4 linked regions of the Homo sapiens genome follow. The protein of the gene in region 2 interacts with the protein of the main gene of each other region in a biochemical or structural test. Each region holds a gene or a part of one and is shown on either strand. Other genes may lie near its edges.

Region 1 (7,023 bases), on a different chromosome or scaffold from region 2:
CGCCCACTCCAGCTGCTCACCGGGGATGCTGGAGATGCACAGCACGTGCGCGTTGCAGACGGTGAACTGGTCCACCACCGTGCCCGGCTGGTTGGCGTCGATGATCACCACCTTGCTGGTGGTCAGGGTGCTGGTCAGGATCCACACCCGGCTGGAGGTGGCGTCCATTTCAGGGAGCTCCTTGGCCTGTTTCAGGGCACGGGATCAAGGTCAGAGCCCGAGCTTGAGGCTACCCGGTGGCAGCACAGGGCCATGGGGCTCCCAGAATCTGTCAGGATCCAGCCTTGACTACAGCTTGAGGGGACATGGCTGTCCTCCCCCAGGACCAGAACAATGCGGACTCAGGACTGCACTCTAAAGCACTCACAGACACGGTTTCGCCTCCACAGAAGAGGCCCCTGAGCTCCAAGAGGCCCAAGCTGGGCATAAAACTAAGCCTCCCACCACTGGGAGGCAAGCTCTGCCGCTCCTGGGCTCCTCTGTGCCTGCTGCCTGCCTGACCCCTGCAGCCCAGTGCAGGCCCACTCCAGGCCACCTGGGGGGTGAAAACTGAAAACCCAGAAGGCGGCTCAGTCCTGGTGAGGGAAGACACTGCTTCCCGCAGTCTAGGAGCCCCTGCGCTGCCCTGCTTCCGGGTGCTGTCCCCAGCTGTCCTGTGTCTCACTCCCAGCATGCTCTGCAGCTGAGCTGTCCTGAGACTAAGCCAGGGAGGGTGCCCGGTGGCCTCGGCCATGCTCACCTTCTTCTTCTCGGGAGACGTGTGGGCGCTCTTGGGCTCGCCGTCTCCTTCGCGGTCGCAGGTCAGGGGATCGCGGCCTGGCGCTGGCTTGACTCCATTCCCAGCGTCGTCCTCATTGGGCCTCCACCCGCTCAGGTTGACGCCCGCGGCACACCACAGCTGCAAGGGCAGGGCCGAGGTCGGGTGTCACCGGCACTCCCCAGCCTCCCGCTCGCCCAGCCAGCCTGAGCGGGGTCCTCGCGGGCTCACCTTCATGGTGGGGTCCTTCTCCACCAGAGGGCGGCAGTACACCGGCACCGGCACGTTCTTCATCCGCGTGTCCTCCTGGCCCCCGTTGGGACTCAGCTGCAGGGAGCAGGGAGGCGCCGTGGGCACGAACCCTGGCTCCTACCCATCCCTCCAGAAATCTGAGACAGGTAGGGCTGCCAGCTTCTGGCGGCACAGCCACTTCAAGACTGGAGGCAGGTGGGGGCGTGGGAGCCGCGGGGCTCCTTCTCCGACCCTCCAGACCCCTGCCCAGGAGGCTCACTAGGAACCTGCCAGGCCCCGCCCCACCCGCCGTCCTCTCCCACCCCCTAGCACTGCCCCGCCCTCTCCCCGCCCCACAGCGCCCCGCCCCTTACCCCCGCCCCGCCTCTGCGGGGCCCCGCCCGGTCCCCGCAGCGCCCGCCCGCACCTGCTTGTACTTGGCGGGCAGGCTCCAGCCGCAGGCCTGCAGACGGCCGTCGTCGTTACGCACGTGCTCACGCACCTGGCGGTACTGCTCGCGCTTCTGCTCTCGACGGGCGGAGGACGTGCAGTCGCTGAGTGGAAGAATGATGGGTGATGTCTCTGTCCAGGGTGAGCGGCCCCCACAGTGCCCCAGGCTTGTCCTGGGGGAGGTCACGGCAGGGAGGCCCGCCTGGGCCCATCCTCGCCTTTTCCCGGCCACCGGGTGCCCAGCTGGGAAGGGTGGCTTTCCCGGCACTGGGTGCCCAGCTGGGAAGGGTGGCTTTCCTGGCACCGGCTATGCCCCTGGGCTTGGAGGCCACAGCTGGCCCCTGCTCGACCCAGAGGCTGCTCTGCTGCCACAGTCACTGAGGGTTCCACAGACCGGGACCTGGAGTGCCGCCGGGGCACAGGCATGACCAGCGACTCCCTGCTGGACAGACGCCTGAAACGGCTCCTTGCTGCAGAGGCCACCGTGGAGCCCAGCACAGCCCCCTGACTGTTGGTGGGCACAGCCTCTGCCAAGGGACATCCTGAACCAAATACCGTGGAGCCAAAGCAGCCCAGCTCCCCGCTGCAGGGAGGGGCAGGCAGTGTGCAGGGAGAGGTCACGGCCCCTGGCATGTGGCCAGCAAGGTGGAGGCTGCCCTCAAAGTCCCGCTTCAGGGCCTGGAGGGGAGGAGCCTCAGGACAGGGCCTCCCCAACCCCATTGCAGGCCACAAGTGGGGGCTGCGGGACACTCACTCGTCAGGGAAGAATTCCAGGGGCCGGCTGCCTGCCGAGATCGGGCACATGGCATGGTTGCGGCGCTGGCTGAAGCCGGCAGTGGTGGGTGACTTGTAGTGGATGTTCACCGAGGGATAGGGGCGCTTGGCCGGAGGGGGGCTGGAGGAAGAGCTGAAGAGGCGGCTGAAGCTGCCAGAGGCACAGGGAGGTGAGGGGTGGGCAGAGGACCAGGGAACCTCCCTGCCCCTTCCCCTGCAGCTGCTGCCCACATCCCCCAGGGGCCCCCAGCTTACAACTGCCAGATGGTCGACTTCTTCTTCTCCTGGACGGATGGGTGCTCTCGGGACGCTCTGCAGGGGAGGGCACAGGGAGCAACCTGCTAGTGCCCTCACGCCTCCCTTACCTGCGACTCTCTGGCTCCCGCCAGGAAGCACCCAGCGCACTTCAGTCCCCCCAGAAGACAGGGAGGTGCAGAGGAGGGAGCCGCAGTCCTGCCGTCAGGGATGATCCCGCAGCCCCTCCTGGGGTGGCCGCAACTCCCACCTGATCATCTCAGTCCACCGCACAGCCTCCTGCAGCTCCATCAGCCGCTCCTTGTACTGGTTCCGCTCCATGAGCACACGGGCCATCTCCACCCGCGTGAAGCGGCGGCGCTGGGCCATGGGGATTTTGTCCTGCGGAGGGAGGGGCACAGAGGCTCAGCCAGCCCTCGGAGGCCGGGTGACACCTGCTTCCTCCTGGGGTGCCTACACGTATAGGTGGATCTCAGTGCCAATTTCCTTCAGATCCTCAGGCAAGAAGCGGTGTGGAGGGGTGTCGGCAAGCGGGGAGGGGAACCATACAAAAGGCATGCACCAGGACTTGGGTGCTGACAGGGGACCCGGCATCCTGCCAGGGCTGTGGTCCTGCCCAAGGGCCTGATTCTGACTCCATGTGGTCTCAGGAGTGGGGTGGCAGATGATGCCGCTGGGGTCAGGTGTCACCCAGGAGGGGTGGGAGAGCTGTCAGCCCAGAACAGCCGGCGAGTCCCCAGGAGCCCGCCTGGGCCCCCTGCCCGTGCCCACCCCAGCCCTGCATGTGAATTGTGGGATATACTGATTCTGTACAGAGACAGAAGCGCCGGTGAGTCCCCGGGAGGCACCCCGCATCCCCATGCCCCGAGTGTGAATAGTAGGATATACTGTGTGTGAATGGTGAATGGTGAATGGTGGCCGCCCAGCGTGTGAATGTGTGGGAATGATGGCTGCCCCACGTGTGAATGCGTATGAACAGTGGTCACCCGGCGTGTGAATGTGTGGGAACAGTGGCCGCCCCGCCTGGGAATGGTGAATGGTGGCCGCCCCGCCTGTGAATGGTGAATGGTGGCCGCCCCGCCTGTGAATGGTGAATGGTGGCCGCCCCGCCTGTGAATGGTGAATGGTGGCCGCTCTGCCTGTGAATGGTGAATGGTGGTCGCCCTGTGTGTGAATGGTGAATGGCGGCCGCCCTGCCTGTGAATGGTGAATGGTGGCCGCCCCGCCTGTGAATGGTGAATGGTGGCCGCCCCGCCTGTGAATGGTGAATGGTGGCCGCTCTGCCTGTGAATGGTGAATGGTGGCCGCTCTGCCTGTGAATGGTGAATGGTGGTCACCCTGTGTGTGAATGGTGAACGGTGGCCGCCCCGCCTGTGAAAAGTGAATGGTGGACGCCCCGCATGTGAAGAGTGAAGAGTGGATGTACCGATTCTGTACAGAGATAGCTGCTTACATCCTCCGCCTCTTCTTTGGGTTCACGGCGGGCGATGATGGCCTCGGACTTCACTCTGTGGGAAGGGGAAGGAGGCAGGGAGGGTGAGGGCCTCCCAGGGGCCTCGGGAACACATAGCGGGCAGTGCCCGCCCCGAACCTGTGTCCTTGCCTCTGTGCAGGGCTGGGGGCTCTCCCCACAGGGACCCCTTCAGCAGCCGTTTGGTTCAGGGCCCTGAACGCTTCTTCCAGTTCCCTGGGGACAGGTGGCCCTGAGCCACTGCTGCATGAGTGCTCTGAAGCCCAGCCGTCCATCCTGGCTGCCCGGGAATGCGGAGGGGGAGCAAAGCAGAGGGGCCCTGGCTTTGGCAAACCCAGAGCAGATCTGGGTCCCTTCTTAGGCAGAGGCATGGTCTCGGAGCGCCCACACCTCCTCTGTCCATCAGAGAAGGGCTGGAGCCCCAACATACAGCTCTCCGGGGGCCGTGGCCAAACCTTGGCTGATCAAAGGGCTGGAGGAGTGGGATGGTGGGAGCTGTGCAGAGAAGGAACGCGTGAGACAGGCCCAGCGTGTGCTGTAGGAGGCTCAGGAGGAGACCACGGCCCCACTCTGCTGGTTGGGGTGGAGTGGCTGTGAGCTGGAGCTGGAGGTAGGTAGGCTATGCACAGAGCCGCTCAGGCTGGAGAGCAGGCACTGGAGGAGGCAGCCACTCCAGAGCCCTGAGGCCGGGGTCCCTCTCTGACCAGCTTTCCATGCCCTGCCCTCACCTTTTCAGTTCCTCTTCCAGCTCCTTGATACGGTTTTCCAGCTTGACTTTGGCCTGCTTAGCAGCCTCCAACTCGCCCCTCAGCACCTCCTGCTCCCCGGACAGCTGGTCGACCTTGGCAATCAGGTCATTCTTCACCACATTCAAGGCGTTTCTTTGAAAAAGCAGAAAGATGGGAGTGCCACGGGCGCGGCATACAGGTACGTGAAGGGGCCTTGCCAGGGGCGCCTGCACTTCCGCCCTGGAGAAGGCACAGCCTGGTTAGGAAGGTGGCTGAATGGGAGACCCCATCCCCATCTTAGCTAAACCCTATAGCACCCTTGTTAGAGGCTCCTGGAGACAAGCTTCGTAAAGAAACCAGGCAGAGTCCTGCTCCAAGTTCCTCCCGCCAGAGATGAGGACAGCTGCTGGCGTTGGAGCCAGGTGCTCCCCAAGGCGCCCTCTGGCCCGGCTCACTCTCCCAGCCCTGACAAGGAGGGCTGCCTCAGCCCCACCACACAGGAGAAGGGCACTCTTACTTGGTTTCCAGAAGCTGTGAGTTTTCCAGTAGCAGATTCCCCACTTCTTTGCCCATTCCTGAAACAGAAGGTGCGGAGGTTTCACCTGTGCCCTTCAAAACAGGTCACTGATGCCGCCGCACCTGCCTCAGGGCAACAACGCTTCCAAAGAGGGTAGCCTGGCTGGGGATGACGCCCGATCTACAGGGAGCGGGGGCCGTGAAGGGCGGGGCTCATGCTGGGCCCGCAGTCTGTGCACAGAGCAGGCTCCCAGGCCTTGGGGTGGTTCTCATGTCCGACCAATGTCACAGGCCAGCTGGCCGGACGCAGGCCCCTGAATGGCCGCTGGGCTGCCATCTCAGTGCCCCCAGCAGGTCTGTCACCAGGCAGGCCCTCTCGGAGCCACCACCCTAGGCGAGTGATGTTGGAGCTGCGGTGAGGGGACAGGTGGGCAAGGAGAGGCCTGGCCCTCACGGCAGGGCCAGCAGGGCTGGGGTGCGGCGATGGGGCGCGGCTGTGAGGACAGGGCTCCCTGGCAGGACTGAAGGCTCCTCTACCACGAGGCCCCAAGTGGACCTGGACTGATCTCCCTGCAAGCATGCCCCAGAAACCCCAAAAGGATGGAAAGAAACTCCAAGGTCCTGCCCTCCCACACACTCCCCCACTGTGTATGCAGTCATGAAACAGCATCACACGCCTCTGTGCCTGGGCTCAGGGGTCCTGCCTGCTGTCTCTATTATGACCTCCCTTGCCTCAAACATGGGCCTTCCTCCCCACAGGCAGGGTCTGCCCGGCGCTTGTGGGGTTCAGAGAGGCTGGGGCTGCCCTCCTCGGGCCTTCAAGTCTGTCCCTTGGGGAAGTCGCCACCTCCCACAGCCCAGAGGCAGCCTGGACAGAGCGAGCTTCACTCAGGGCTGCCCCCCTGACCCCGGCGGCCCCAACACTGTCCCCATCATGCAGAACAAAGCAAACGGCTCATGAAGCAGGAGACCATGTCGGGGTGGAGGAGCGACGCACGCTGGAACGGGGCCTCAGCCTTACCAAAGAAATCATCGCGCACTAGGGAGCCGTCCCCGTCCCACAGGAGATGGGCAACCAGGGCGGGAGGAGAGGGAGAAAGGGAGAGAAGAGAAGCGCGTTAAGCCCGTGTGGACAGCAGGCTGGGAGGAATTCAGAGCTGGGTCTGCTGGGTTAGGGTGGGTGCAGGAGGGAGTTAGGAGGGCAGGAGATGGGATGGAGCCAGCTATTCCTTCTGGAAAGTTTATCCTTGGGGTTACATGAAGACTGCCAGGCCAGTGTCACCTGTGGAGCAGGAAGCTAACATCTCACCCCAAATTCTGGGCTGGGTGGGGCTGAGGGCAGAAGGCACCCCTGTGGGGATGGGCTGTGCCTGGAGGCTGGGGGGCTGCATCTGGACAGCCTCTGGGTGGGGCCTCGGAGCCTCCTGCTGTGCAGCCAGAGAGCAGGACTCGGCCTGTCCACCCACGTGGGGAGGGGACCCCGGGCTGGGCTTCGTAGGGGCTTCAAGGACCCCTGACTTCTGGGGTGTGCCTGACAGCAGGGGAGGCCCCAGAGCTGGCCTTGGCCATGTCCAGTCACTGCCGTGCGTGGCTTAGGGCTCCGCAGGGCCTTCAGAAATGGCCCGCGGGGGACTCCTCAGGCTGGGGGGGTTGGATATCCAGGTCATTGTCAAGTGGCTGGTGGAGCAAACCGAACAAGCTTCCGAGCGGCGGTGGCTGCGAGCAGAAGCAGAGGCGCTGCGGCGACGTGGGGGGCAGTCCACACAGCCACGGTGACGGGATAGCTCGGGGCATCCCCCGTCCACCCACTCCCCCCGTCACACAGAGGGGAGACAGACAGG
Region 2 (7,023 bases):
GGGTGTAGAAGAGGCTACAAGTATTGGAAAGTACTGGTATAACTGGTCTCAACCATTTTTGGAGATTGCCAGTACAAAGGAATATAACTTACTTCCTGTATGAATCATATACCAAAGGCAATTGCTTTCCTCATTGTTGATGAACTACTGTAACAGAAAAGGTCTGCTTATAGTGGAATGTTTTCTGTTACCCTGTGCAACTTCTGTGGCATTTAAGTTATACAGATCTGCTCTACTATGATTTTATTAAATAGGAAATGCCCTTAATATTTAAAATTCTCTCTCCTGTCTCCCCTAAGAAAATTATCACAATGTAGTTTCAGTTATTTCTGTTTTCCTTTGGAAAACCAAAAACACTACAAAATAAAATTCATATGAAATGTAAGTTATCAATTATTTACATTTTTTGAACACTTAGACAAGATTTTGAAAATCAGCTTTGTCTCATATCCTTCCTGCTTTTCCACTAACCTGGCACATATTTCGATTAGTGTCTCTAGTCAATACCTTTAGCCAAAGAGAAAAACTAATACATTAAAACAACTAGGCTAGGCGCAGTGGCCCACGCCTGTAATCCCAGCACTTTGGGAGACTGAGGCAGGAGGATCGCTTGAGTCCAGGAGTTTGAGACCAGCCTGGGCAACATGGTAAAACCCCATCTCTACATAAAAATACAAAAATTGGCCAGGCTTGGCTGTGCTCAAAGCAGGAGGATCACTTGAGCCCAGAAGGCGGAGGTTGCAGTTGGAGCCGAAATCATGCCAACGCACTCCAGCCTGGGTGACAGAGCAAGATCTTCTTAAAAAAAAAAAAAACCCACAACTACACAAACCAATATATCAGAGTCACCAATGGATTTTTAATTTATCATTTTGCCTTGATTTCCTTTATTTCCCTTTTATGCCACTAATAAAATTTTCAAGTTTAATTTTACTCCCTGAAAATGAGGGTATCTTTCTCATATCTAGCCAGTTTCCCCACCTACCTATATCCAAATTACAGGAAGATGAGGCTGTCTTCAAGATATATTTTTCCCAAAGCTGTGGGTTCCCAGTTTCTTCTGATAACCACATAGCTGTGGGTTCCTGCAACACTGCCCACCTCCACCACATTTCCCACTCTCATCTTGCCCCAGGTGGAGCGGGGCAAATGCTGGCATGTTCTACAGCCACAGTGAGGCTTCCATGGGTGACAGAAAGGGGAGCGTGTGATAAAAGGCCCTCGAATGGCCTCCTGGGAGGGGCCATCATTGCACAGCACACTGTCAGCCCTGGAGTCAGTAGCCAATAATGCATTTTCCTATGGTTCTCTACTTTCCTGGCTTGGAGTGGTGTTTGAAGGGACCACTTGGAGGAAGTACTTGGAAAGCAGGCACGGTTGGTACCTCATGCTGGAGAGACTTGCACATTTCCCGGACTTTGTGCTTGTCCATCTCCCACTGCTCCACAAAGAAAGTGTGAACCAATTTTATCCTGCAAACCAGAAACAGGAACTGAATGGGCCTCTAACCAGACCTCTGAAACAGGAAGTAGGGCACAGTTCTTATAGCCACCAGAGGGGAACTGCCCTATAAACAGAGAACTCCCAAAAGGCTGGCTCCAGCCAAGGCCACGGGTGAGACAAGCCTGTGTTATGCGCTTATATAATGCACAGGCTTCACCCAGAGATGGAACCAGCTCGAACTACCAACTGATAATGTCTCAAGCAGACAACAGGTGACCAAATTAAGGAAAGAAACCAGGATCCTGGCAGCCCAGGAAGCAGAGCCGGTCATGACAACATGCAGCTGATGATGTGGGGTAAGAAATTGGTACTCTAAAAACTAATTTTGTGCTCTGGAGTTTTCTTTTTGATTTTGCTTTTTTCCGTCCGATTTTCTAGTTAAGCTCTTTTAAAAAAATTATAGTTTTGCCTTAATTGACCCATTATCCAAGAAAGCAAGAAGCAGCAGTGCTGTCAGTTTGTGTGCGGTGGGTGGCAGCTGCTACAATGGTGTGCCAGGGAACGTGAACAGCTCAGAGAAAAACCATGTGTTGGACACCACTGGGATTTTTTTAAAAAATCCTTCCCTAACTAGAGTTTTCCCTTATGAGTTTATCTACGTTTGCTCTTTTGATAATTTTACTAAGGTTCGTTTCTCACGTGAAGCAGTGGCTGAAAGGTGGGAAGGGGCTGCAGGGCGGTTCCAATCAGAGGCTCTCAAACACAACTCTGTTGACTGGTGTGATAAAGTTTTCACTCATCCTTGGAGAAATGGGAAAAATAAATAACAAGTCATGAGTTTTTGCACACATTTTCTGTATGTGAAGATCTGCCCTTCATTCTAAGGTTATGTCCCCCACTAATTTTTTTTTAACATAAAACTTTCCTTTTTAAGAAATCATGGCAATAGGTGGCTGGTTGTTGATTTTCTTGTCTCTCTGTCTCTCTTTCTCTCTCTCGATTTTCCTCACTTTCTCTACTTATAATACTCTTACTTGGAAAAATTTAAATGTTGGCAAACACATGTCAGTCCTCCAAATTTTTTTAACTGGTTCGTGGGAACCACTATTTAGGACATACAGACTTTACTCTCTCCTTCAAAATATATGAGACAATATACTCGGAAAGTATATTGAAAGTAGAAATGCAGAAGTGGGCTGGACAATTTTCAAGAACTTCTCCATCTGGGATAGATGGGATACAAGGTTATGTTCTGTTTTGTTTTATTGTTTTACCAAATAAGATTAGAAGTCCTAAGGAGCTTTGCTGGAAGCAAGTTGGAGCCAAAGCCTGGCAAGGTCAGATGCCTCTCCAGCAAGATGGCATATTAACACATGGGCGACTTTTGTCACAAGCTCAAGTAAAGTGGGAACATACCATGGATGAGAATAGAAAAGCTAAGTTCTTACAATTTTAACTAGCATGTGCTTCCTTCCTGTTACCTATGATTGCTACAGGGTGAAAGGCTGAGTAAGCGGTTGCAATCTGCAGTGAGCCAAGCTGAAAGGCCCGGGCGGATGTGAAGGCTGGTGGTAAGGAAATGGGAAGCAGGCAGCCAAGCTAACCCTGTGTCCACTGAAGGAGTGAGGTGGCCTTGAGCACAGCAGCATCCCTGGGTCTTACGTCGGCCAGAAGTAGAAAGGGAAGAAGCCTAAAGGAAGTGAAAGTGTTGCTGGATCTCCTGCTGGCATTGCCTCCTCCTTCACACAGCATCCCGGTTCTCCCTGCAGCCACCTGATCTTCCCTTTGTCCCCTTCCTCACCACAGCCCCACCACCTTCACCACTCCAAGTTGATGCTTCTCCTACATCTGGCCAAGATGCTACTCAGAGGTGGATGAAAGCAAAAGTCACTGCTCTAATACAAGAAAAGTCCCGGTTTTAGGTTTCAGAAACAGAATTTTCCCGAATGTTTAAAATGGTGAATGGTTCCATAAACTGTGTTAACCAGGCTTCTTACAGGCTAGTCCCAGAATCTGACCACCATGTGCAATACTGTTTCTAAGAAAAGTGTGCTCCAAGCAAGAACCTTCAAACATTTAACCTGAATGAATGAATATAACCTCTTCACGGTTCAGTGTTTTCATAAGCAAAACAAGAGAATAGCAGCATTGATGTCTTTTAAAAAAAATTTAGGGCTGGGCGCGGTGGCTCACGCCTGTAATCCCAGCACTTTGGGAGGCCAAGGCAGGCAGATCACTCCTGAGGTCAGGAGTTTGAGACCAGTCTGGCCAACAAGATGAAACCCTGTCTCTACTAATAATACAAAAAAATTAGCTGGAATGTGGTGGCACATGACTGTAATCCCAGCTACTCAGGAGGCTGAGGCAGGAGAATCACTTGAACCCAGGAAGCAGAGGTTGCAGTGAGCCGAGATCGAGCCACTGCACTCCAGCCTGCGTGACAAGAGCAAAACTCCATCTCAAAAAAAAAAAAAAAAAAAAAAATTTGGAAAGCTTCCCATTTGGGATCTGTCCACCTACACAGGGCAACACGATAGTATTGACATCTCTTAGCTTTTACGGAATTTTCTGCCTACAATGCAGAGGGCAAAGAAGGGGTATTGTCAGCTTGGCTTTGCTGTCTCTGAGTGACAGTCTCTTGTATACGTAAATAAGATGAATTTTCATAAAAGCATTGACAGAGCATTAGCTTCACCTCAGAAAGAAAATGAAAAAGCAAATGACAACTGTAGTCAAAGAAGAAATTAAAATATAGTTAAATAGTAAACAGATCAAGAAAAAATCAGTGAAAACCTTTAACTTGCAACCTATTCTTTTTAAAGACATCAGTACACAAAGATTGGGAAAGTTTATTAAAAATGTTACCAAACTTTAAGTTCTTCTTTTTTTTTTTTTTTTTTTTTTGAAACAGGGTCTCATTCTGTCACCCAGGCTGGACTGCAGTAGCACGATTTCAGCTCACCGCAGCCTCAGCCTCCCAGGCTCAAGGGATCCTCCCACCTCAACCTCCCGAGTAGCTGGGAATAAGTTCTTACTCACTCCGTTAGGTTGAGCTATTCGAACATCACTGTTTCCCATGTAAACGTTGAGACCTTCATTAGGCTCTCCTTGCTTACCCTGCCATTTCACTTCAGGTGTCACCACCTTTAAGAAGCTACCCCTTGCCAGGTGTGGTGGCTCACACCTGTAATCCCAGCTCTTAGGGAGGCAGAGGCAGGAGGATAGCTTGAGCCCAGGAAATTGAGACCTGCCTAGGCAATATAGCGAGACCCCATTCTCCACAAAAAGGAAAAAAGCAAACAAAAAACAAGCATAAGAAGCTACCCTTGAACCCACTGTATCCTCAATCTGATTTTTGAAGCTGATTCCTGGGAGCCCAGCATCCTGGCACAGAGGCACTGCTAAGGCAAAGGCATTGGTCTGCCCTCCCCACCAACTCTGAGCTCTTCAGGGGCAGGAATATGATATATACAAGCAGTTCATTTAATCTCTACGAGCTGAAATGATTCATTTGTCTTAATAATGCTGTCATTTTAAAGTACAGAATTTGAGAGCTGGAGGGAATCTCAGATACCAATTATTCCAACACTCCACTCTTTTCTGAGGCTTTAAATGACTTGCTCCAAGTTAGAAAAGAATCAGGACCCAAAGCCAAACCTTGAAAATGCTGTTCTAATGCTTTGTGCCTGCATCCCATGCCACCTTGCCTTTGTAAATTCACAGGATTAAATAAGGGAATCCTAAAAAAATGTGTTCAATTCCCCCTTCACTTCTAACCCTGGTCAATTTTACAGGCAAAGAAACACCACTGGAGGCAATGAAGGGCCGTTCTCACAATTACATGGTTCACAGCAGAGCTGGGATGAAAACTCGGATCTAATATGAGGGACCATGTTCTTCCCACTATCTCATAAAAATTCAACTTTCAAGTACAGGTCATGGGTGTAGAGCAAAGGTCAGCATGGCACAGGGGCCAAATCCTGTGGGCCACCTGTTTTTGAGTATGGCTTGCAAGCTAAGAATGGTTTTTACATTTTAAAATGGTTATAAAACAAGAAATCATACTTTGTGAGGTATATGAAGTTCAAATTTCAGTGTCCACGAATAACGTTTGGTTGGAACATAGTCATGATCATTTGTTTAGGTCCTGTTTATGGCTGCTCTTGAGTAATAGGGCAGAGTTGAGAAGTTGTGAAAGAGACCTCAAGAAATGAAACCACACACCTAACACCATCTGATCTTCAACAAAGTCAACAAAGTAAGTAATGGAGAAAGGACTCCCTATTCAATAAATGGTGCTGGCTAGCCATATGCAGAATAAAATTGGACCCCTATCTATCACCATATACAAAAATTCATTCAAGATGGATTAAGGTTTAAATGTAAGACCTCAAACCATAAGAGTCCTAGAAGAAAGCCCAGGAAATACCATTCTGCATCAGCCTTGGGAAAGAATTTATGACTAAGTCCTCAAAAGCAATTGCAACAAAAACAAAAATGACAAATGGGACCTAATTAAACTAAAGAGCTTCTACACAACAAGAGACACTATTAAGAGAGTACAAAGACAACCCTCAGAATGGGAGAAAATATTCACAAACTACGCATTTAAGAAAGGTCTACAAATCAACAAGCAAAACAACAAATAACCCCGTTAAAAAGTAGGCGAAAGATATGAACAGACACTTCTCAGAAGAAGGCATACAAGCAGCCAACAAACTTATGAAAAAATGTTCATCATCACTAATCATCAGAGAAATGCAAATCAAAACCACAATGAGATAACATCTCACACCAGTCAGAATGGCTTTTGTTAAAAAGTCAAAAAATAACAGATGTTGGCGAGGCTGCAGAGAAAAGGGAACACTTACACACTGTTGGTGAGAATGTAAATTTGTCCTGCCACCGTGGAAAGTAATTTGGAGAGTTCTCAAAGAACTAAGAGCTGAACTACCGTTCGACCCAGCAATCCCATTACTAGGTATATACCCAAAGGAAAATAAATTGTTCTACCAAAAAGACACCAAACCAGATATTGAATGTTCTCACTCATAAGTGGGAGCTAAACATTGGGTACAAGTAAACTTAAAGATGGGAGGCTGGGTGCGGTGGCTCACGCCTGTAATCCCAATACTTTGGGAGGCCAAGGCAGGAGGACTGCTTGAGGCCAGGTTTGAGACCTGTCTGGGCAACATAGCAAGACCCCGTCTCTACAAAAAAAACATAGTAAAATAAAATAAAATTAGCCCAGCGTGGTGGCTCATGCCTGTAGTCCCAGCTACTCGGGAGGCTGAGGCAGGAGGATCACTAGAGCCCAGGAGTTCGAGCTAGCAGCGAACCATGATCATGCCACTGCACTCCAGGCTGGGCAACAGAGTGAGACCTTGTCTCTAAAACAAATAAAATAAAATAGAAACAAAGGGTTTGGATAAAACTGATGCACTACCTTCATTCTGTCACATTTTCATGCTTTCATGCTGACTGAGAGGGCACTCATCCTGGGAGTTCATGCCATCCAGATGGGCAGGGGTTAAACTGAGACCTGTCTAGGTTGAAAGAAGCAGTACGAAGGGACAGAGT
Region 3 (7,023 bases), on a different chromosome or scaffold from region 2:
CCCTCCAGGAAGGTGGGTGAACCAGGTGGAAGGGAGGAATTTACCTGGATGCAAGATCTCCCAACAGGCTGGGTGGGTCAGAGGAGGCAGGAGAAGTGGTCAGGAGAGAGTTCAGAGAGGAAGAAAACAAAAAGCACATTCATTCACCACTTCTGCTGTCCCCCGGATAGAGAAGACCCACGGGACACACTCCCACCCACCCCCCTGCACAGCCCTGACTGCTCTTTCAGGGATACACCGAAATGGCATTAGCCCTGCCCCGAGGGACTGGGATCCAGACCCAGCTCAGCAAACCCCTGAGCCCCAGGATCCTCATCTGTCAAGGCAGTGTAAAAATTAACCCCAGTGCTGCCTGTCCCAAGGGAGGCCGGACTATCTAAAGGCAGAGGGAAGGACTCCGGGGTTGCCAAGAATGTTTGAGGGACTGTGGGTCCTGAAAGGTCACCAGACACAGGATTTGGGATTTGTAATTTTGAGATGTCCTATTATATAAGGTCAGGATTACATACTGCCACCTGCCAAGAGGCATTCTTCTAATAATCAAGGAGACCCAATGTCTAATGGGATTTAGCTTTTCAATCTTTTCATAGAAATTTATGAATTAAGTTACAAAAAAGAAACACAGTAGTTTGTTTGTTTGTTTTTCTCCCTGAGCTTCCACCAAACTATGCTCCAGGGCAGGGCAGTCTGGTCCACCACTATGACCTGAGTTAGGAGAGGAGATTTCAGGCAATGTTTGGGGCACTGTCTGGGCCTCTGTTTCACCATCTGTAAAATGGGAAAGCTGACTAGCAAATCCCCAATCCAGCTCTGGGTTCTGAGCCCTTTTAGCTGTTTCCTCAGAAAATCAGCTTGGGCATGCATGGGGGTGGGTGCTATGCCCAAAGTGTGATAAGGAGATGGCACCCCTGGGGACCCCACAGCAAAGACTCTGAGGACGCCGTCCCCTGGGCATGGCCAATCCTCAGTGCGAGCCCAGACCTAGGATAGAGGAGGAGGAGAGAGAGAAAGAGATGGGTGGGGGTAAGAGAGGGGCTGAGGGCCAAGGAAGGAAGAGAGGGAAAGCGGGCGGGGGAGAAAGAGGAACAGAAGGGAGGAAAAGAAGGGACAGGAGGTTCCTCCTCCAAGGTGGATGCAGCTAAAAGGGCTGCAAACAGGCAGAATGGGGCAGGGGCCTGTGGGCACCTGGGACGCTCCCCTCTGCACTCCGGGGTCTTGGGCTTGGCTGGAGCACTCACCCGCCCCGAGACACCACCAGCTTCACTTTCACTTTGTAGGAAACAATGATCCCCAGGATCTCACGGTTGGCACCTTCCCTCAACCTGCAAAGTGACACAGGGGAGCCAGTTCAGGGGCCTTGCCAGGTGGGCGAGACACCTCAGGGGTGGGTATGCTGGGGGGCAGTGGCCGTCCATCCCCCATCTGGCTAGCCACTCAGCTACCATGTCCAATAGAGCCCAGTGGAGATGAGGAAGGCGAGCAGTGCCCTTAGGTAGCAGGGACCCAGAGCCCCGGTTCCAAGTCTGACTGTGAGACTCGCTCACTGTGTGGCCCTGCTGAGCCCCTCTCCCTGCCCAGGCCAGCGTCCCCGCCATGAGGGCCAGGCTCCTCCTCCCCTCAGATGGATTCTGCTTCTCTCAGCAACCCATGGGCAGAAAGGGCCACACGGGGAGTTCACAGAGGGCGAGGCAGCTGGGGTGGGGTGGGGTGGGGGCCATCAGAGAAGGACTTCTCCGCAGAGGTGGTGCTTCAGCTGGGTCTTGAAGATGGGTAGGGTGTGAGCCAGGGTGGAGACAGGGCAAAAAGCTTCAGGTAAGTGGGAGGCTGTGCAGGGGCTGCTGAAGAGAGCTGAGTCTGTGCTGGGAGTGGCGGCTGCTCTAGACGTAGGCCAAAGCCCCACTGAAGGACCACACTGGCAAGAGGGCAAGATGGCATCCCCATAGCCAGGGCTCTGCTGGAGCAGAGTAGCCTAGAGGCGTCCACGATGACTGTGCAGCAGGAGTGACCAGATGCCCTGGGACCCCTGACTTGGAGGGGCACCCCATGTTGGGTCTAACCCAGCTCACCACCCTGGTCTCTCCTCAGGGACACCCCATCTGACTGAAGGCATTACGTCAGAAGCTGCCACCTCTTGCAGGAAGCCTTCCCAGGTTGCCCTCCCCCAGGCATGGTAGCAGAGCCCAGCACTGCCTGAGTGAGCTGGCCTAGTGGTCCATCTTATTCTCTCAGTCACCCCTGGGTAGGGTTGGGAGTAAGGAGGCAGCTTCCCTGACAAGTCAAGCACCTGAGGACAGGCCCTGACAAGGCTATGGAGAGGGTAGCCTGAGCCTTGTCTTTGAACTGGGGGGACCAAGGAGGGTGTGGCCCCATCAGGCAAGATGCACTAGGAGCCCAGGGCTAGGAGGGCAGGTCCTCACAGGGTGCTAGAGGCCAAGTTCGTGTCTTCGTGCTTGAGCTTCCCGTCCAAGGCGAGGCCCCGCTTCTCTCGGTTATTGGCTAGGAAGGGGGTCAGTGTGTAGACCTTGCAGAACGTCGAGCTGGGTGCCACAGTGTCACTGGGAAGAAAGGAAGCAGCTGTGGAGATGGCCCTCCCCAGAGCCAACCCCAGCCCTGATCTCCAGCCCAGCAGAATATCTAGTCTGAGCCTGCTCCAAGTCTCCCTCTCCCAACCTCTGTCCCCCAGACACACGGACCACTTGGGCCAGCCCAGCTCGGGCAAGGAGACCACTGCCACTCAAAAGAGGCACATCTACATTCTACGCACAAACAGGACTGAATCTCGGATATTCTAAAAGATTATCCTAGTCAAGCAGCACAGTGCTAAAAAGCACATTTATTTAAAGAATTACAGCCAGCCGGGTGCAGTGGCTCACGCCTGTAATCCCAGCATTTTGGGAGGCCGAGGCGGGTAGATCACGAGGTCAGGAGTTGGAGACCATCCTGGCTAACAAGGTGAAACCCCGTCTCTACTAAAAATACAAAAAAATTAGCCGGGCATGGTGGTGGACGCCTGTAGTTCCAGCTACTCAGGAGGCTGAGCCAGGAGAATGGCATGAACCTGGGAGGTGGAGCTTACAGTGAGCCGAGATTGCTCCACTGCACTCCAGCCTGGGTGACAGAGCAAGACTCCATCTCAAAAAAAAAAAAAAAAAAAGTACAGCCACAGCAGGCACAGTTGCTCATGCCTGTAATCCCAGCAACTTGAGAGGCTGACAGGAGGATTGCTTGAGGCTAGGAGTTTGAGACCAGCCTGGGCAACATAGCAAGACCCCATCGCTACAAAAAATTTTAAACATTAGCCTGATATGGTGGTGCACACCTGTAGTCCTAGCTACTTGGGAGGCTGAGGCAGGAGGATCACTTGAGCCCAGGAGTTCGAGGCTGGCTGTAGTGAGCCATGATCATACCACTGCACTCCAGCCTGGGCAACAGAGTGAAACTCTGTCTCTAAACAAATTTAATTTAAATTTATTTTATTTTATTTTATTTTATTTTATTTTATTTTTTTGAGACAGAGTCTTGCTCTGTCGCCCAGGCTAGAGTACAGTAGTGCGATCCTGGCTCACTGGAACCTCCACCTCCCAGGTTGAAGCAGTTCTCCTACCTCAGCCTCCCAAGTAGCTGGGATCACAGGGGCGCGCCACCATGCCCGACTAATTTTTGTATTTTTAGTAGAGATGAGGTTTTGCCATGTTGGCCAGGATGGTCTCAAACTCCTGACCTCAAGTGATCTGCCTGCCTCAGCCTCCCCAAGTGCTGGGATTATAGGCGTGAGCACCAGCCCTGTCTCTAAACACATTTTAAAAAGAAAAAATTATAGCTACACATAAACCATAAATGAAGCTATTTGGGCACCCATATACCCACCATCTAGGCTCAACAATTAAAACTTTACTTGCTTGATCACATCCATCATATATAGGGTGTTTTGATTGTCCAATTTTTACTTGCTTTTGCTCTATCCCCCATCCTTTCCAATGAGAGAGCTGTCATGCAGCAGATAGTGAACAAGCCTTGGAGTCGGACGACCGTGTTCCAGCCCCAGCTTTGCTGCTTGCTAACTTGCAAGTCACATCTCTCTGAGCCACTTCCTCCTCTACATACTGGGGCAGCAGCAACCCCAGCCCCACAGCGCTTCCTGAGAAGTAAACAAGTCTGTGAGTGCAAATGCCTCCCCAGCCATCCCTGCTGGTATTCGTTATGCAGACGCTGGCACCATCTGCAGTGGTTGGGATTTTCTACTCTTTAGGGATTATATGTTACTCTGGTTCTAGATCACTTCACTTTACCATCAGGAATCTATGCCTCATAGCTCTGATTTTTTTGAAAAAATCAACAGTGGATATGAAAAATATCCAGTAACCAGAGAAAGCTTGATCTAATCATAGCATGTTCACCTATAGGACATTAAAAACTATTTCAAAGGCCATGTAGTAACATTTTAAAAATATTTTCAGTTGCAAGAAATACTGATTGGAATTATACATAAACAAATACACATATACATGTAAAATTATATCAGGTATAATTGCCCCAAGAAATTACTTGCAGGGCCAGGAAAAAAAAATGTGTATGTCTTTGAATGGGAGCATTTACTTCCTTTAGGTAAGTAAAGATGTTTCACTTCAGATCTCTCCACTTGCCTTAGCTGCCAACAAGCCTGGGACAAAGTTCGATCCATGCTCAACCATAGCAGTTCTCCTCAAACCTAGATGATTTTTTTGTGTGTAATTATTCTCTGCACTCCCACACACAACCCCTTTTTCCCAATGAGTTGGATTACCCCTTTATCAGACAAGAGCTGTGTACCTAGTGCCTTACCCACTTTGCCCTGGCTACCAGGAAGCCAAGAACAAAGTATTTCCCTTCAACCTAGGTTTCTTGTACAACGTAATTATTTCTTCTCACAACCCCAATCCCCTTACATTCATTAGCTATTGTTTTGTCACTCTAGTTTTAGTGGGTCTCTTCCTTGACTGTAGCATGCATTTTCTTGAAGCTAAATCAGGTGGATGGTTTCTAAAAGGCTCTTCGGGATCATCTACTCTGAGTGGCAAGGAAGTCTGAGGCCCAGCCCTCTGCCAGGTGGAGAAGAGCCACCTGGACCTGTAACAGGACACCTAGAGCTTCTCTTTTTCCCACCCAATCCCATACGCCCAAGGCCAGACTTGTGCCCACTTACTCAGCCTCTTCCATGGCAACAGGGCACTTGTACTGAGCTGTGTTGAAAAGGCAGATGTCTGCATACTGGCGCACTAGGGAGGGAGAGGAATCAAGGTGGAGTGAGTCGGGAATGTAGCTCCCATGGAGTCTCACAGGCGTCCCCGGGTTGGGGATATTCAGCCCCAGGCAATGGCCAGAGGCCACCAGTGGGGACTTCTGCATAAGACCACCCCTGTCTTACATCCAAAGGGTAGCCCCAAACACACCCATTTCCTTCCATAACCAAAGCCTTCCCCTCAAGGACAGCTTTGTCCAGAACCCAAGAAACTGAAGAGGTGGCTTAAAGAGCAAACTCATTACCTAGCCAATAAGCAGCCTGCCTTACCCAACTCAAAAGCTTTGCCCTGTGGCTCAGAGCAGGCCCTGGGCTTCAGTGGCTATTTTTTATACAAGGCTGTTAACAAGGGGAGATACTTCAGCCACCCCCAGCCCTTGGGAAGATTGCCTCTCGCTGTCCCCTAAGCTGACCCTCTGTCTGGGATACCTGAGATCTTGATCTTCTTCACCGTCTTGTTGGTGTTGTTGGTGACGTGGACGTTGACGCTGATGGGTTCTCCATGGTAATAGATCTGGGGGGCATAAGAAGGGACGGGGTTGGCTGGGAGGACAGCAAGGTTCTAGGGAAAGGGGAGGGAGAAAAGCCCCCACGCGATCTTCTGGGGTTCCCCAGACCTTGCGCAGACCTTCAGAAGGGTCTGCTGCTCCCATCTGAAGTCCATCACATCCCTCAGGTTCATGCCCCCTCTGCCACTCCTTTAGGCCCAAGAGGCTTCTCCGAATCCCCCAAGGCATTGTGACATTTGCCCCAAGTTCATCAGCCACTTCCCACTGCTGCTAAGGTGGCATGAAAGCCACCAAGCACATTAGCCTTCAGTTCCCTGGTGGGACCCTTGAAAGATAACGGAATTGGAAGGTGATAGTCCTGGGCTCCAGCCCTGGCTTGGCCAGCAGTAATTGTGACAACAATAACAACAATAACATTGACGATGATGAAAGCAGTGTGACCGTGGGTAGGTTATCTAAGCCTCAGGGTCTCCCTCTGTGCAACGAAGGGGTTGGACTAGGTGATGTCTGAAGTCCCTGCCAGCTCTAAATTCTGTCCACAGAAGGATCTGGAAGAAGCAGGGAAAGGTGAGGATGGGCTCACCAGCTCACTGAGGGAGCCAGCTCTGAATCCCTACAAAAAGACCTCAACTTGCATCTTGCCCCAAGGCACTTCCCTTCAGCCATGCCCCGAGAGAGAGGGGGTGCCCACACCTTGAGGAGGGGCCAGCCTAAGCTCACAGCAGTCAGCTGGGTTTGATTCAGAGTTTGAGGGGAGGCCCTTCCTTCTGCAGGGCTTGTCGCCCTGACGCTCAGTGTTTGGCAGGAAGGTCACGGCCCCCCACCGTGCCCCCTCTGCAATGCTGGTTGACCTTCAGCACTCGGCCTGAGGCAGGCAGCTGGTGGAGGTGTGGGGGAGATGTCCAGGACCTTCAGGAAGGTCTGCTCCTCACTTCGGAAGTCCATCACATCTCTCAAGTTCATGCCCCCTTTGCCACTCCTTTAGGCCCAAGAGGCTTCTCCAAATCCCCCATGAGAGGTCTCAGATTCCCTGACCCCTGTGGTCCTTGGGCTGGGGATAGAAGCTCCTACCTGAGGCATCCTTGCAGGCCAGGAGAGAGCTGGGATCTGAGGCCCAGGCCCTGGTGGAGCAGCCCCCACCCCCTGCCAAGTCCGAGCCTCCTACCTCCTTATCCAGAGAGGCTTCTAGGTGCAAGGGCTTGTCCGACATGAGGAACTGCCTGGTGGTCTCGGCTG
Region 4 (7,023 bases), on a different chromosome or scaffold from region 2:
ATGGTGATGATGGTTTCCACTTACTCAACACTCACACGCTGGGCTAGGCACTTAACCCAAATCCAAGGTCAGCATTATTGTTTGGGGGTGGGGGAGACACCTCCTGCTCTGACTTGTGTGTTTGGGTTCCTGTATTTTCACCAGAGGGAGTTAGTCCTGCCCCAGTTCAGCTGGTCCTCAAAGTGTATATAGCTCTTTAACCATCAGCAAGTGTCTATCAGAACATAATCTTGATTTCAGCTGCTACTAAATATCTACCAGGAGACTGCTTGAGAGAATTGCCTGATGGGTGCTGAGTCCACCATTCCTGAGATACTTTGAAATCAGTGGCTTAACCCAAGCTGTGTATCGGGACCCTCTCACCGTGGTCCCAATGGAGTCACTTTTCTTAGGCGCCCCCCTTTACCTTGGGCTCTGAGCTTCCTCTGCCTTTCATCTCTGTGGGATGAAGCCCCACCGCCCTTCAGGATGCAAAGCCCTCTTCTCTAATGTGAGTGCAGGGCCAGGTGCAGTGGCTCACGCCTGACCTCCCAACACTTTGGGAGGCCGAGGCAGGGGGATCCCTTGAGCCCAGGAGTTTGAGACCAGCCTGGGCGACACTGTGAGACCCTGTTGCCTGAATTGCCCTGGGAGATTTCCTCAGCTTGTGCTGGGGGCATGTGGCCCCATGAAGCCCGTAGTCACTGTTCACCCTGAGAGACGCTGGCTTTCGGGCTCACACACCTGCTGCGGGGCAGCCCCAGGAAATGGCCACCCCATTTCTCCTGGAGCTGCGCGTGTTCTCAGAAACTGTGGTGGCCGTTCTGTTTTGTTTGCATCTTATAAACGTTTACCTGATGACATTTTCCTCTTCAATTTAGCTGCTAGAAAATTTAAAGTCAGGTTGGTGGCTCACCAGTAATGAGAGTTTAGAGTAGAAGTAAACTTTATGACATAGTCTTAGACTCTTCACTTTCTTCTCAACCAATATGATTCACATTTACTTTATTTTGCTGTACCGTGAGTGTCTCTGTGTTTCCTGAATTCCTTCTGGAATAAGGCAGGTTGTTAGTAAGCACAGGTTTCTGGTCCATCTCACAGCCTCAGGCAGTGGGCATTGCTGTCGGTGCTCCCTTTCCGGGTTACCTGTGGTAGCTCTCAAGTTGCAGGGCTGCGATTTGAAGCCTGATTTAGTACACCGTGTTTCTGTTGTGTTCTGTGGTGGTTTGCTCCTCACATGTGAGCATTCACCGTGGCCCTGTGTTTTTCCACCACACCTCTGCCTGGTGGCATCCTACTGGATGTCTCAGCCGAGCCACTCTGTTCTGAAGATGCCCTTGTCCTCCACCCCTTTGCTTTGGGCTCTAAGCTTCTTCTGCCTTTCATCTCTGTAGGATGAAGCCCCACCCGCCCTTCAGGATGCCAGCCTTGGCAACATTGTGAGACCCTGTTTCTACAAAAAGTAAATGAGTGTAGTGGTGCACGCCTGTATTCCCAGCTACTTGGGAGGCTGAGATGGGAAGATCACTTGAGCCTGGGAGGTTGAGGCTGCATTGAGCTGAGATCAAGCCACGGCACTCCAGCCTGGGAGACAGAGCGAAACCCCATCTCAAAAAAACAAAGAAAGTGGATGCGCGCTGCTCCTGCCATTGGATCATCGCAGCATTTTTCTTTTCTCTGATATGCACCTTTTTCCTCATCGTGGGGGCTCACGTTTTCATAGTTCCCTCTCACTACTAGGTTGTGAGCTGCGTGAAGGAAGGTTCATAGTTGTGTTGTATGTACAGGCACACAAAATTTGTCCTTGGATAAACACATATCCTCTTCCTTCTTCTCTCTGAATTTCTTTATTTTAAGAAAAAAATTAGAGATGGAGTCTCACTGTCTTGCTCAGGCTGGTCTCAAACTCCTAGGCTCAAGTGATCCTCCTGCCTCAGCCTATACTAATATGAATTCCTATACTAATATGATTGAAATTAGTTTGATTTCTATAATAATTGTGCTCCCAGATTGGGCTTCTGTTTTGATAGTAGAACTAAATTATTAGGCTATTTCAAGAAATTAATATATTACTGGTAGAAAAACTGAAGCTACAAAATGGCCTGGTTTCTCACTTCAGTTAAATTTGTGCTTCTGAGTGCTTGTATTCTAGGTGAAACCACACTGAGAAGGTATTTGTGGCCCATACACTGATTCCTTCATGAGACTTGTTTGCACAGGAGAGCTGCTAAAAATTACTGCTCTCAGGGAGGTCTGTGGTGAACAGGTATGAAGAAGAAGACTGTTCTCTGCCCTTCTTTTTGCAATAAAATGTTCCAAACTATCTTGAGTTTGATCCCTTTTCGGGTGTTTGGGGTTTTTTTAACATTCACATATTTCTTGGAATTATAAGAAATTAACTTTGTGCTTCTGAAGTAGGTTTGCCTTAATATAACACTGATGTATTTGTAAGGGGCATTTTTAAAGCTGTACTTTAAAAAATAATAATTCTTACATTCGTTTGAAGGTTTTTTTATGTGTGTTTTTGAGACAGAGGCTTGCTCTATCGCCCAGGCTGGAGTGCAGTGGCACGCTCTTGGCTCACTACAACCTCCGCATCTGGGGTTCAAGCGATTCTCCTGCCTCAGCCTCCTGAGTAGCTGGGACTACAGGTGCCCACCACCACGCCCAGCTAATTTTTTGTATTTTTTTTTTTTTTTTTTTTTTGAGGCAGAGTCTCTGTCGCCTAGGCTGGAGTGCGGTGGCACTATCTTGGCTCACTGCAAGCTCCGCCTCCTGGGTTCATGCCATTCTCCTGCCTCAGCCTCCCGAGTAGCTGGGACTACAGGCACCCGCCACCATGCCTGGCTAATTTTTTGTCTTTTTAGTAGAGACGGGGTTTCACCGTGTCAGCCAGGATGGTCTCGATCTTATGACCTCATGATCCACCCGCCTCAGCCTCCCAAAGTGCTGGGATTACAGGCGTGAGCCACCACGCCCAGCAATTTTTTGTATTTTTAGTACAGACAGGGTTTCACCATGTTAGCTAGGATGGTCTTGATCTCCTGACCTCTTGATCTGCCCACCTCAGCCTCCCAAAGTGCTGGGATTACGGGCGTGAGCCAGGGGGCCAACATGGTGAAACCCTATCTCTACTAAAAATACAAAATTAGCCGGGAATGGTGGTGCGCGCCTATAATCCCAGCTACTCGGGAGGCTGAGGCGTGAGAATCACTTGAACCTGGGAGGCAGAGGTTGCAGTGAGCTGAGATAGCGCCACTGCACTCCAGCCTGGGGGGCAGTGAGACTCCATCTCAAAAAAAAAAAAAAAAAAGAATAGAATAACCCTTGTTTAGGTGTTAACAAAATCCAGGCCAGACAAATCTAAACTTTAATCTCATACCCAGTTCCTAGATGAGTCCCTTCTCCAGCTCAGGTTCCGCCTAAGCCTCAGGGTTCCTTACTTGGTGGGCACCACCTGCTCCCTTCCCCACCTTTGTCCTCTTTTTCCTCTGCTGGCTCCTCCGGGGTTGGGTGTGTTCAGAGGCAGAGACAGGCTAAAGGTCTTTGGCTTTTAGGTTCTGTTGGTGGGTGAGTTCCAGATATAGCTTTCTCTTGTAGGATATTTCATTTATTTATCTATTAAAAATATTTATTTAGAACACACCATTCATGTGCCAGACCCTGTCCAGGCACTGGGGATAGGGTGATAAATGAGATCAACAAAAATACCTGCCCACATTAAGCTCCTGTTCTAGGGAAGACAGAAAGAAAATACACGTGTCCTTAGTATATTAGAAGATTCCAAGTACTGTAGAGAAAAATAAAGCAGGCTGGACTCGGTGGCTCATGCTTGTAATCCCAGCACTTTGGGAGGCTGAGGTGGGAGGATTACTTGAGCTCAGGAATTTGAGACCAGCCTGGGCAACATGGCAGATCCTGTCTCTCCCAAAAAAAAAAAAAAAATTTAGCTGGGTATGGTGGCGTGCATCTGTAGTCCCAGCCACTGGGGAGGCTGAGGAGGGAGAATTGCTTCAGCCTAGGAGGTGAAGGTTGCAGTAAACCGAGATCGTGCCATTGCACTCCAGCCTGGGTGACAGAGCCAGACCCTGTCTCAAATAAAACAAAAGGAAAGAAAGAAAATGAAAAAAAGAAAGAGATGGGGCAAGCAGGGGAGAGGGCTGGGGACACAGGGGAGGGTGCTGGGGATGCAGGGGAGGGTGCTGGGGACACAGGAGGGTGCTGGGGATGCGGGGGAGGGTGCTGGGGACACGGGAGGGGCTGGGGACATGGGAGGGGCTAGGGATGCAAGCTTTCCTGAGTTCCCACAGTTCTCTGCCCCTCTCCTGTCTCACGGGGTGTGGGCCACCTGTGGCTTGCGGTTGTTTCGCGCCAAGCTAATATCTTGTTCTTCCCAACAGAGAGGCCCGTTGAGGCTTCTCTGTCCTCCATGGGGAACAGCATTGGCCTAAACCTGCAGACACCATTGCAAAGGGAAGTCAGCTCAGGCAAACCCGCTGGTGAAGAAGAATTCCAGTGTGGGGACACAGAGACTGACATTTCTTGCCATGGGTGATTTAATTTTGGGCCTCAGTTTTTCATTCCCCCCTAAGAGTATGACGCAGCCGCATCCTTGCCAGGGCCGGAGGGAGGGTGGATGGACTTATAGGTGTTGCTTGTGGCTGGGTGACTTGCTTCTGCCAACGAGATTTTCACAGACACGGCACAAGCAGAAGCCTGGAATGTGTGGCACTGCCAGGCCTGCCCTCTTAGGCTCTTGATTTTCCCCACGAGATATGCGTGCCCCAGGGAACGGCGGCTCTGGCTGTGGAATGAGAGGCGTGTGGAGCAGGCATGGTTCCCACCCTCAGCCTAGAGTCAAGGCCAGACTAGATCAGCCTAAGCCCAGCCACGCCACGGGTGCAGCAGTGAAGAGCAAATGCCAACTGTCCATGACAGTGACTTTCAAAGGGGCGTGTCATGTGCCTCATCCCAGCAACAGGGAAGGCATTTCTCTATCAGTCAGTTGGTAAATGATTATTGACAATGTGTGGGAAGGTGGAGTTATTTGAGTAGATTTGGCCTCTATTCTCATGGAGCTTCCTTTCTAGAGGGGAAGGCAGATGATGGATGAATAAATATAAATGATTCTAATAGGTTGGTGCAGCAGTCATTAAAAGTAATGGCAAAAAAAAAAAAAAAAAAAAAAACGAGGAGCCGGTGCTGCAGTTCATTAATAGTAATGGCAAAAACTGCGATGACTTGTGCGCCAACCTAACCCAGTAATCACGGGTGTGCAAAATGTGGCGATGGGCAAGTTCCGAGTGCTAGGAGAGCATCTAGCTTCCCGGAGTCAGGAGACGGGGGTTGGCAACCTAACCAAGGTTAAGTCCAAGGGAGGGGGGTGGGCAGGGAGCGATATTTCAGTGGAGACTCCAAGGACGAATGGTATTTAGAGAGTAAACCCCGATAGAGAGGGTTTGTGTCTGGCACAGAGAAGAGCCTGTGCAAAAGCCAGCGGGGCGAGAGGACACCATGTGTTCATCCACCTGAGGGGCGACCAGCAGGCTGGAGCTCAGCGGGTTGAGAGGAGGATGCAGAGCCCGGGAAAGGCACCCTAGGCAGAGGGCACAGCAGGGCAAAGGCCTGGAGTCAGGCCTGAGCCTGTGTGGTTTGAGGAACGGATAGAGGCCTGTCCGGCAGGAAGGGAACAGCACAGGGGAGAGACCTTAGGCCAGAGCAGAGGGCAGGGCTGTGCTGGGCACTGTGGGCTGTGGATGGTGCTGGCATTTAAGAGGGGAGACCATAGACCAGGGCAGAGGGCAGGGCTGTGCCGGGCACTGTGGGCTGTGGATGGTGCTGGAATTTAAGAGGGGAGACCATAGACCGAAGTAGAGGGCAGGGCTGTGCTGGGCACTGTGGGCTGTGGATGGGAGCTGGCATTTAAGAGGGGAGACCATAAGCCAGGGCAGAGGGGTGGGGAGGGCTGGGCCAGGCACCAGAGTGGAGACCACAGGCCAGGGCAGAGGGCAGGGCTGTGAGGGCACTGTAGGCTGTGGATGGGAGCTGGCATTTAAGAGGGGAGTCCATAGACCAGGGCAGAGGGCAGGGCTGTGAGGGCACTGTAGGCTGTGGATGGGAGCTGGCATTTAAGAGGGGAGTCCATAGACCAGGGCAGAGGGCAGGGCCGTGCTGGGCACTTTGGGCTGTGGATGGGAGCTGGCATTTAAGAGGGGAGACCATAGACCAGGGTAGAGGGCAGGGCCGTGCTGGGCACTTTGGGCTGTGGATGGGAGCTGGCATTTATGCTCAAGTGATGGGAATATGTTAAAAGATTTTAAGGAGGGGAGTAACAGTTGGGATTAATGTGTATTCTGGGAATCTCAACAAAGTAAATTCATAGTTCGAATTTTCATAAGACTTCTGCACAGGCAGAGAGAAATAAGATCGCATCTACAGCTGTGTGGTGATTTTCTTTAAAAATACTACTAAGTTTTTAAACGTGATTTCAAATGGTGTGTTTCTGTTTCACATTGGACATAAGTAGATTGCAAGGCTAATGGAAAGTAGAAAAGTTAACTCATGAACATAAAAGAGACATCGATTTGAAAACAAAACATTTATTCATTTACTTCTGCTGCAGTTTTCTTGACTGCTGAATTTCGTAAGAAGGGATTGGTCAGGGAGGGTCTTGGGGCTGAAGACCTGGAGAGGAGCTGGTGCTATCGCTGTTCAAATCTGAAGGTGGTGGAGATGGAGCCTTGGGGAGGAGCCGGTGCTGCCTTTTAAGTCTATGAGAGTCGTTGAGCTGGAGGTCCAGGGAAGAGCTGGTGCTGCCACTGATGTCTTAGGTTGTGGAGCTGAAGACAGTGAAGGAGCTGGTTTGGCTGTTCTGTGAGGGTCGTGGAGCTGGAGATCCAGGTGGGAGAGGTGTTCTAGTTTGAGGGTCATGCAGATGGAGATCTGTGAGGAGCTGATGTTATTTTAATTGGTGGGTCGTAGAGCTGGAGACCAGGGAGGAACTGGTGTGGTTCTAGTTTGAGGGTTGTGGAGCTGGAGACACAG

The links.
Region 1: of the proteins of MAP3K5 (region 2) and MAPK8IP3, one has a biochemical effect on the other in vitro, tested with the Homo sapiens proteins (one study listed by BioGRID).
Region 3: the proteins of MAP3K5 (region 2) and ARRB1 interact in a test that uses a peptide from one of them, tested with the Homo sapiens proteins (one study listed by BioGRID and IntAct).
Region 4: the proteins of MAP3K5 (region 2) and PDCD6 form a complex in vitro, tested with the Homo sapiens proteins (one study listed by BioGRID).

What each region holds. Positions count from the first base shown.
Region 1 is NC_000016.10:1,758,176-1,765,198, reverse strand, and holds part of MAPK8IP3 (C-Jun-amino-terminal kinase-interacting protein 3), read right to left. Parts: intron 6,222-7,023; coding exon 6,204-6,221; intron 5,242-6,203; coding exon 5,184-5,241; intron 4,820-5,183; coding exon 4,667-4,819; intron 3,976-4,666; coding exon 3,894-3,975; intron 2,849-3,893; coding exon 2,718-2,848; intron 2,525-2,717; coding exon 2,468-2,524; intron 2,364-2,467; coding exon 2,193-2,363; intron 1,543-2,192; coding exon 1,416-1,542; intron 1,085-1,415; coding exon 989-1,084; intron 899-988; coding exon 740-898; intron 187-739; coding exon 21-186; intron 1-20.
Region 2 is NC_000006.12:136,782,476-136,789,498, forward strand, and holds part of MAP3K5 (mitogen-activated protein kinase kinase kinase 5), read right to left. Parts: intron 3,580-7,023; exon of another isoform or gene 2,940-3,579; intron 1,800-2,939; exon of another isoform or gene 1,572-1,799; intron 1-1,571. UniProt on the Homo sapiens protein: Serine/threonine kinase which acts as an essential component of the MAP kinase signal transduction pathway. Plays an important role in the cascades of cellular responses evoked by changes in the environment.
Region 3 is NC_000011.10:75,271,657-75,278,679, forward strand, and holds part of ARRB1 (beta-arrestin-1), read right to left. Parts: coding exon 6,953-7,023; intron 5,793-6,952; coding exon 5,708-5,792; intron 5,256-5,707; coding exon 5,183-5,255; intron 2,556-5,182; coding exon 2,418-2,555; intron 1,323-2,417; coding exon 1,239-1,322; intron 69-1,238; coding exon 45-68; intron 1-44. UniProt on the Homo sapiens protein: Functions in regulating agonist-mediated G-protein coupled receptor (GPCR) signaling by mediating both receptor desensitization and resensitization processes.
Region 4 is NC_000005.10:274,639-281,661, forward strand, and holds part of PDCD6 (programmed cell death protein 6), read left to right. Parts: intron 1-1,373; exon of another isoform or gene 1,374-2,302; intron 2,303-7,023. UniProt on the Homo sapiens protein: Calcium sensor that plays a key role in processes such as endoplasmic reticulum (ER)-Golgi vesicular transport, endosomal biogenesis or membrane repair.